Linked DNA regions of Homo sapiens. The protein of the gene in region 2 interacts with the protein of the main gene of each other region in a pairwise test. Each region holds a gene or a part of one and is shown on either strand. Other genes may lie near its edges.

Evidence for each region. The genes of interacting proteins can lie anywhere in the genome.
Region 1: the proteins of CADPS (region 2) and PRPF18 interact in a two-hybrid assay, tested with the Homo sapiens proteins (one large-scale study listed by BioGRID).

What each region holds. Positions count from the first base shown.
Region 1 is NC_000010.11:13,603,747-13,607,477, reverse strand, and holds part of PRPF18 (pre-mRNA-splicing factor 18), read right to left. Parts: intron 1,848-3,731; coding exon 1,734-1,847; intron 1-1,733.
Region 2 is NC_000003.12:62,487,417-62,490,916, forward strand, and holds part of CADPS (calcium-dependent secretion activator 1), read right to left. Parts: intron 1-3,500.

The DNA.
Region 1 (3,731 bases), on a different chromosome or scaffold from region 2:
TCATGCTGAACTCCAGCCTGGGTGAGAGTGAGACCCTGTCTCAAAAAGCGTGTGTGTACACACACACAAACTTCTGTTCAGCAAAAGATTCAATTAAGAGAACAGGTAAGCCCTAAACTACAAGAAAATAGTCACAAAAAATATTCGTATATCTGACAAAGAACTTCTATCCAGAATATACAAAGAATTCCTATAATCCATTTACAAAAAGACAAGTTTATTTTTAAAATGAACAAAAAGCGCCTGTAATCCCAGCTACTTGAGAGGCTGAGGTGGGAGGACTGCTTAAGCCCAGGAGGTTGCAGCTGCCATGAGCCATGATTATGCCACCGCATTCCAGCGTAGGTGACGGAGTGAGACTCTGTGTCAAAAAAATAAATAAATAAGGAAAGAAAGACTTTAACAGACACTACACAAATGAACACAACTTTATGAAAAGATGCTCCTCATCTTTAGTCATCAGGTAATGTGATTAAAGCCGCAAAGAGCTACTACCAGACACAAAAGAGAATGGTTAAAATTAAAAAGACTAACAATACCACATGCTGGGGTTTGGAAATGACTGGCATTTCTTATGAAGTTAAGCATACATCTACTCTTATTATCCAGCAATTCTACTTCTAGGTATCTCCCCAAGAGACCTATTTATTTACCCAAGAAAAATAACATAGTTCCAAAAAAAGATCTGCATAAGAATGGTCATAGCAGTTTTATCCCTGTTTTTTTTTTTTTTTTTTTTTTTTTGAGAAGGAGTCTCACTCTGTCGCCAGGCTGGAGTGCAGTGGCACAATCTCAGCTCACTGCAACCTCCACCTCCCGGATTCAAGTGATTCTCTTGCCTCAGCCTCCCAAGTAGCTGGGAATACAGGCACACGCCACTACGCCCAGCTAATTTTTGTATTTTTAGTAGAGACGGGGTTTCACCATGTTGGCCAGGATGGTCTCGATCTCTTCACCTTGTGATCCACCTGCCTCAGCCTCCCAAAGTGCTGGGATTACAGGCTTGTGCCACCACGCCCAGCCAGCAGTTTTATTCCTAATAGCCCAAAGCTGGAAACAAATTTTGATATATTCATACAACTGAGTATCACTGGAAAATGAAAAGGAAACCAGTGGTATCTGCAATAACATGGATGAACCTAAAAACTGATATGCTGAGCGAAAGAAGCCAGACACACAATCTATGAGTCCATCTGTATGAAATACAAGAACAAGCAAAATTAATCCATGATGACAAAATTCAAATGGTGGCTGCCCAGGAAGGGATGAGGAGAAATATGAGGATAGGCTGAGAAGGGGTACTGGGGAAATTTCCTTTTTCTCTTTTTTTTCAACTTTTAAGTTCAGGGATACAGCTGCAGGATGACAGGTTTGTTACATAGGGAAACGTGTGTCGTGGTGGTTTACTTCACAGATCATCCCATCACCCAGCTATTGAGCCCAGCATCCATTCGCTATTCTTCCTGATGCTCTCAGGGAAATTTCTTTGGTGACGAAAATGTTCTATTTCTTTATAAGGGCAATGGTTATATGCTTGTATGTATTTGTCAAAATGCATTAAATGTTATACTTAAGATATGAGCTTTTCAAAAAATTAATGAAAACTTCCATTCAGCAGCAATAATCTGCTCACTTTACTTTTCCATTGTTGCCTACAATAATGCAATTAGTCAAACTCTATTCTAGTGAATGCAGTACAGTGGTATTTTTCTAGCTTTGTTCTGTCCTCTTACCTTGTTAACTTCTGGTGTGAGGATCTCTATTTTCCTTAAACGTTGAAAAGCATCATAATCAGTCTCTCCAAATAGTCTGATTGGTTCTCCTCTTTCTCTCAATCTTCTGATGACCTACAAAGTGAAACAGATACCCAGTAAATTTTTTTTTTTTTTTTTTTTTTTGAGACAGTCTCACTCTGTTGCCCAGGCTGGAGTGCAGTGGTGCGATCTCGGCTCACTGCAAGCTCCGCCTCCCAGGTTCAAGCGATTCTCCTGCCTCAGCCTCCCGAGTAGCTGGGACTACAGGCGCCCGCCACCACACCCAGCTAACTTTTGTATTTTTAGTAGAGATGGGGTTTCACCATGTTGGCCAGGATGGTCTCAGTCTCCTGCCCTTGTGATCCGCCTGCCTCGGGCTCCCAAAGTGCTGGGATTACAGGCGTGAGCTAATGTGCCCAGCTATTAAACTTTTGAGAGAGGAAAAAACTAAACATCTCAAAAACAATTTGTATATTGTACCTTAAAAGCCAAGCCTGGGTTTAATAAAAGCTAATTATCCAAATACATGCCTCTGTGTAAAGTATAAAATCCTTCAAATATTTTAGATCATTTCAATTAAGCTAAACAAAGATGTTTCCAAATCAAAGAGAAAATCAAGTACTTTAAAAATCTATTTTGACTCAAAAGTCACTGTTATTAATTTTATCACTGAACAGCTCCTAGAAAGTGGTCTGACCTATGACTCTACAATTCAAGTCTAAAGAAAGACCCTAATATAAACCACCTCTTTTACTGTGAGATTTTTAAAAAATTCTTTTTTGTAAGAAAAGGGGCATGTCTGTGGCCCTCATTTTACATAATTATAACTGTTCTTAGTCTTCTTTTAAAAACAATGGAAAGACAATAGTAATCCCTTATGTCAGCATATTTTTGGTGATCAAACACTTGTTTTGAAATGTAGATGAAAAAAGTAATCTGTTTATTCTTTTAATTTTCCATAAACAGATATACTGTGTTACCATCACACCTTAAGTAACCATAAAGTTTAGGTCGTTTAGCTCACTGCTTCGATAGGACCAATCTGTGTGGCAGGACACACAGGAAAAACACTAAGATGGGAGGGAATGACAGCATTTATAGAGAGAAGGAAAATCAAATCTGAAGCCAGCTGATAATTACCATAATGGACAGTCTGCATTGTAATACCACCATGAAACCAAAAACTTCTCCCTCAGAAAACAGGGAGTTATAATCTGCATATGCAGAGCTTTTAAGATGCTGAAAATCTATTTCCAAACTTGGGTGATGGTTACATGAATATTTATTTTATAATTATTCATATATGTGTAACAAACATATATTGCCCTAACATGGTTCATACACTTTATATACATGCTATGTATGTCATTTTAAAAAGGAAGAAAGAAACAGAAAACGTAATAAATACTAGTCCAAATTTTTTAAATAAAGCAATAATGAGAAACACCAAGAGCTTTACCTGGGAGCATAAATAGCATCACACCTAAAATCCATTGAGAGGGCTCCCAGTGGATTAACAGAAGTTTGAGATTAAAACAGAAATTTAAGAGGTCATCTAGTGCTATCTCCAATCAATGCAGAAATGACCTCACAAACACCCTTGTCAGATCCCTGGCTGACAAATGGCAGGAATCACATTTCTTCGTGAAACATCCCATCCCATTGTTTAGACAGAGATGTTTTGCTTCTCAAAACTGAAATCTACTTCCCCCAAACTTCTACCCATTTATCCCAGTTCCACTTTATGAAACTACAGAGAATATTCTGATTTTCCAAAATCAGAGCTACTTTCATTGGATTTTTAAAGATATCTCTAGTAATTCTTCTCTCCAGCCTCACTATTCTAAATTCCTTCACCTCATCTTCATATGATGGTTTCTAGAGTCAGTCACCATTCCCCTGAAAATTTCCTTTTATGCAATGTCCGTCATAAACATGTGGTAATGTAGAACTAAATAATAATACTACAAACATGTC
Region 2 (3,500 bases):
CCAACTGTGAGTGGTGACCCTACTACATGTCCTGATGGAAACCCATGAGAGGGCCATGGGCTCCAGATTTTATTGACAACTTGGGACTGTCTTTGAGAAGCTGACTATCTTTAGCTATGGTTAGAAGCAAAGAGATGACATTGTCCACCAATTCATAGAGATTCTAACCATGACTGTGTCTGGCTTAACGGAAACAGAGATGTAGCTTCCCTTTTCTCTTTTCGAAGAGATGGAAGACTGTCTTTCTAGGGAAAGGCTGCCATAGGACTCAGCCATTTTACCCTTTCCGTCAAATAACTTCAATTATTTTTGTTGTTGTTGTTTTTGTTGTTCATCTTAAATAACCTTAATTGTATCAAGCCTAAATGATGATATCTATTTTCTTTTACAGGGCCATATTTTGAAATAAGAAAATCTGAAGAATAAAGGATATTTTTCATTCTCTTTTTAGCAAACTCAATACATTGGTAGCATTTTCTTGTCAGATTGCTATTTTTCTTCAGCATTTTGCATGCTAATTATTTTGAACATTACATTGCATTTCATTACAATGCATTTCTCATTTTACTTATAACGAGGTGCTTATAAATTTTGAAAAGAAGAAGAACAGAACTACTTGAGGATAACAATTGTTTGAAAGAAAGGCTGTGTGTGTGTATGTATGTATTGGAAGATTCTGTGGCAAAAATGGAAAAGACTGAGCAAACTAAATCTATTTACCTAAGTTAGTTTCTTGTTTTGGGGTGAGCTTGATGAGAAGTATGCCAAAAAGATCATTCTTCACTTGGAAAAAAAATCTAAGAAGAGAAATGAATCTGCTTCTTCATCAACCCACCAATAAGTAGTCAGATGGAAGTTCACACTTTATTTCTATTCACGTTGTAGGAAACATGGAGAGAGTCACTCCTCTTAGCACATAACATGTCTCCAAGCTCTTTTTTACACTCCATTTTATTCCATTCTGCAAAGCTGCCCCGTGGCATCCACACTCTGTTTAAAAATCGGCTGATACAGTGTGTGTGGTAGCTTGTATTTTAGTTAGCACTGTTTTTATTATTTATTTATTTATTTATTTATTTATTATTATTATTTTTTAATAGGGACTCACTCTGTCACCCCAGGCTGGAGTACAGTGGCAGGATCATGGCTCACTGTAACCTTGAACTCCTGGGCTCAAGCAATCCTCCCACCTCAGCCTCCTGAGTAGTTTGGACTACATGCTGTGCCACCATGCCTGGCTACTTTTTTTATTTTGTAGAGATGGAGTCTGGTTATGTTGCCCAGACTGGTCTTGAACTCCTGGCCTCAGGTGATCCTCTCGCCTTGGCCCCCCAAAGTGTTGGGATTACAAGTGTGAACAACCACACCCAGCCCTTAGTTGGCACTTTTAAAGATCTCCACAGACTCTGAAAGGCATATACTATTTAGTATGAATTGAACAAACCACAATCATATTCACTAACAGCATAATTTTAGATAGCAAAAAGCTACTAAAAAACACACACGTATCTGCATAATTCTCAGGTTATTATTCGCAACTATTATTCCTTTATTCACAATTTGCAGACCTTTAAATTGCCCATGCAAGAGTTCAAATTTTTTTTTAATTGGTAAAAATATTCCCAAGAAAACATCCCTAGACTAAGATTTCCAGGTATGAAGATGATTTTTGAGTCTATCTTTATTTCTGATGGTATTAAGAATATTTAATGCCCCCAAAGAAGTAGCAGTCATGTGTTAAACTTTTATTATTTTTTTTTTTGAGACGGCATCTCGGTCTGTCACCCAGGCTGGAGTGCAGTGGAGCGATCTCGGCTCACTGCAAGCTCCACCTCCTGGGTTCACACCATTCTCCTGCCTCAGCCTCCCGAGTAGCTGGGACTACAGGTGCCCACCACCACGCCCAGCTAATTTTTTGTATTTTTAGTAGAGACGGGGTTTCACCGTGTTAGCCAGGATGTTCTCGATCCCCTGACCTTGTGATCCACCCGCCTCGGCCTCCCAAAGTGCTGGGATTACTGGCGTGAGCCGCCGCACCCGGCCGTGTTTGACTTTTAAGAAATTTAACAGATTATAAAATGACTTAGTGACATTATCACGAAGTTCCATGACAATTCTCAGACACTGGACAGGCACATTTTTAAAACTTCAGTTTTGCAGGGGAGCAAACAAGTTCATAGAGGTTTGAACCCTTGACTTCTGGCTAGTAAATGGGCACTAAATCTAGGGCTCTTCAAGGAATAGTGAAGGATACCAATTATTCTCTTCCATGTGTGTTGGTAGTAGTAGTCTCCGTATTTAAGTGCAAGTAAGTAAATGTTATTTCAAGACCATTGTTATTTTAAAACGTAAATATTACTCATTTTAACCTTTTCCTCTTAATAGCTATTCTCCAGCACAACTGTCTTCATTGTATTGAACATTGAAAAAAAATAGAGGCTCTCAATAATTTACCATCAAGGGATCCAGTTCTACCCTCATGAGTGAAAAGTCAGTAGGGCCATATTAAGAGACTGTTATAAACTGGAGAATAACAAACTAAAATTTAAATTTCTTGGTATTTGCAAAGGAGGAGCTACTGGTTATTAACCTCCCTGCAATAGGGAAACTCCTCTTGTGGCTCAGATGTGGAAGGGGGGCAGAAAAGCCTATTTTGCATTAATTTATCAGTGAGAGCCTTATACAGTATAACATTAGAGGAGGGTCTCAGTTCAGAAAACTGCTTAAAAATAGGCTGCAAGTCAAGGCTTCCAAACTGAGGAAAGGCCTCATGAATATTTGTTCTGGAGTTCCTAAAATGTGCTTGTAACATCCCTCTACTTTGCTCCATACTGTTTGCTGCATCCCAAAGATGTAAAATACTAGCATGAACGAAATGATTTCCTTAAAAAAAGAAAGAAAGAAAGAAAGAAAGAAACTAACAAGGCAAATCCAGCAGTAGGCTTTACTGGAGCTTTTCAAACCATCAAACCATAACCATCAAACTCTCCATATAGGAGTCTCTATTTTTTCAGAAAGGGGAGTCTGAGACTGACCCTCTGGAGCCTCAAGTCAAGCCCTCTTCCCATTTGGGGAATGGAGATGGCACCAAGCCTGCCAAACATTTTCAAATAAGACCTAAAATTTGCCAAACATTTGTGGAAATTGACAAACTTGCAACCCACAAGATTTCCCATAATTTATCCTGCAGGGTATATGTCCCATTTTAAAAAAAGCACACGGTTGTCAAATACATTTAGGAAAATCCGGGTTAAACAGAGTTACACAAAATTCTAGGTCAGTGGGGTAGGTATTGTTTCCTAAACATACTTGGCCATAAAGGTTTTTTTTAAAAAGGTGCATCTAAAAGGCCTAGACCAGGCAATGGCAAACTATGGACCTGTTTTGTTAACAAAGTTTCATTGGAACACAGCTACACTCGTTCATTTACATACTGTCTATGACTGCTTTCATGCTACAATGACAGAGTTGAGTTGTGACAGAGATTATGTGGCTCCAAA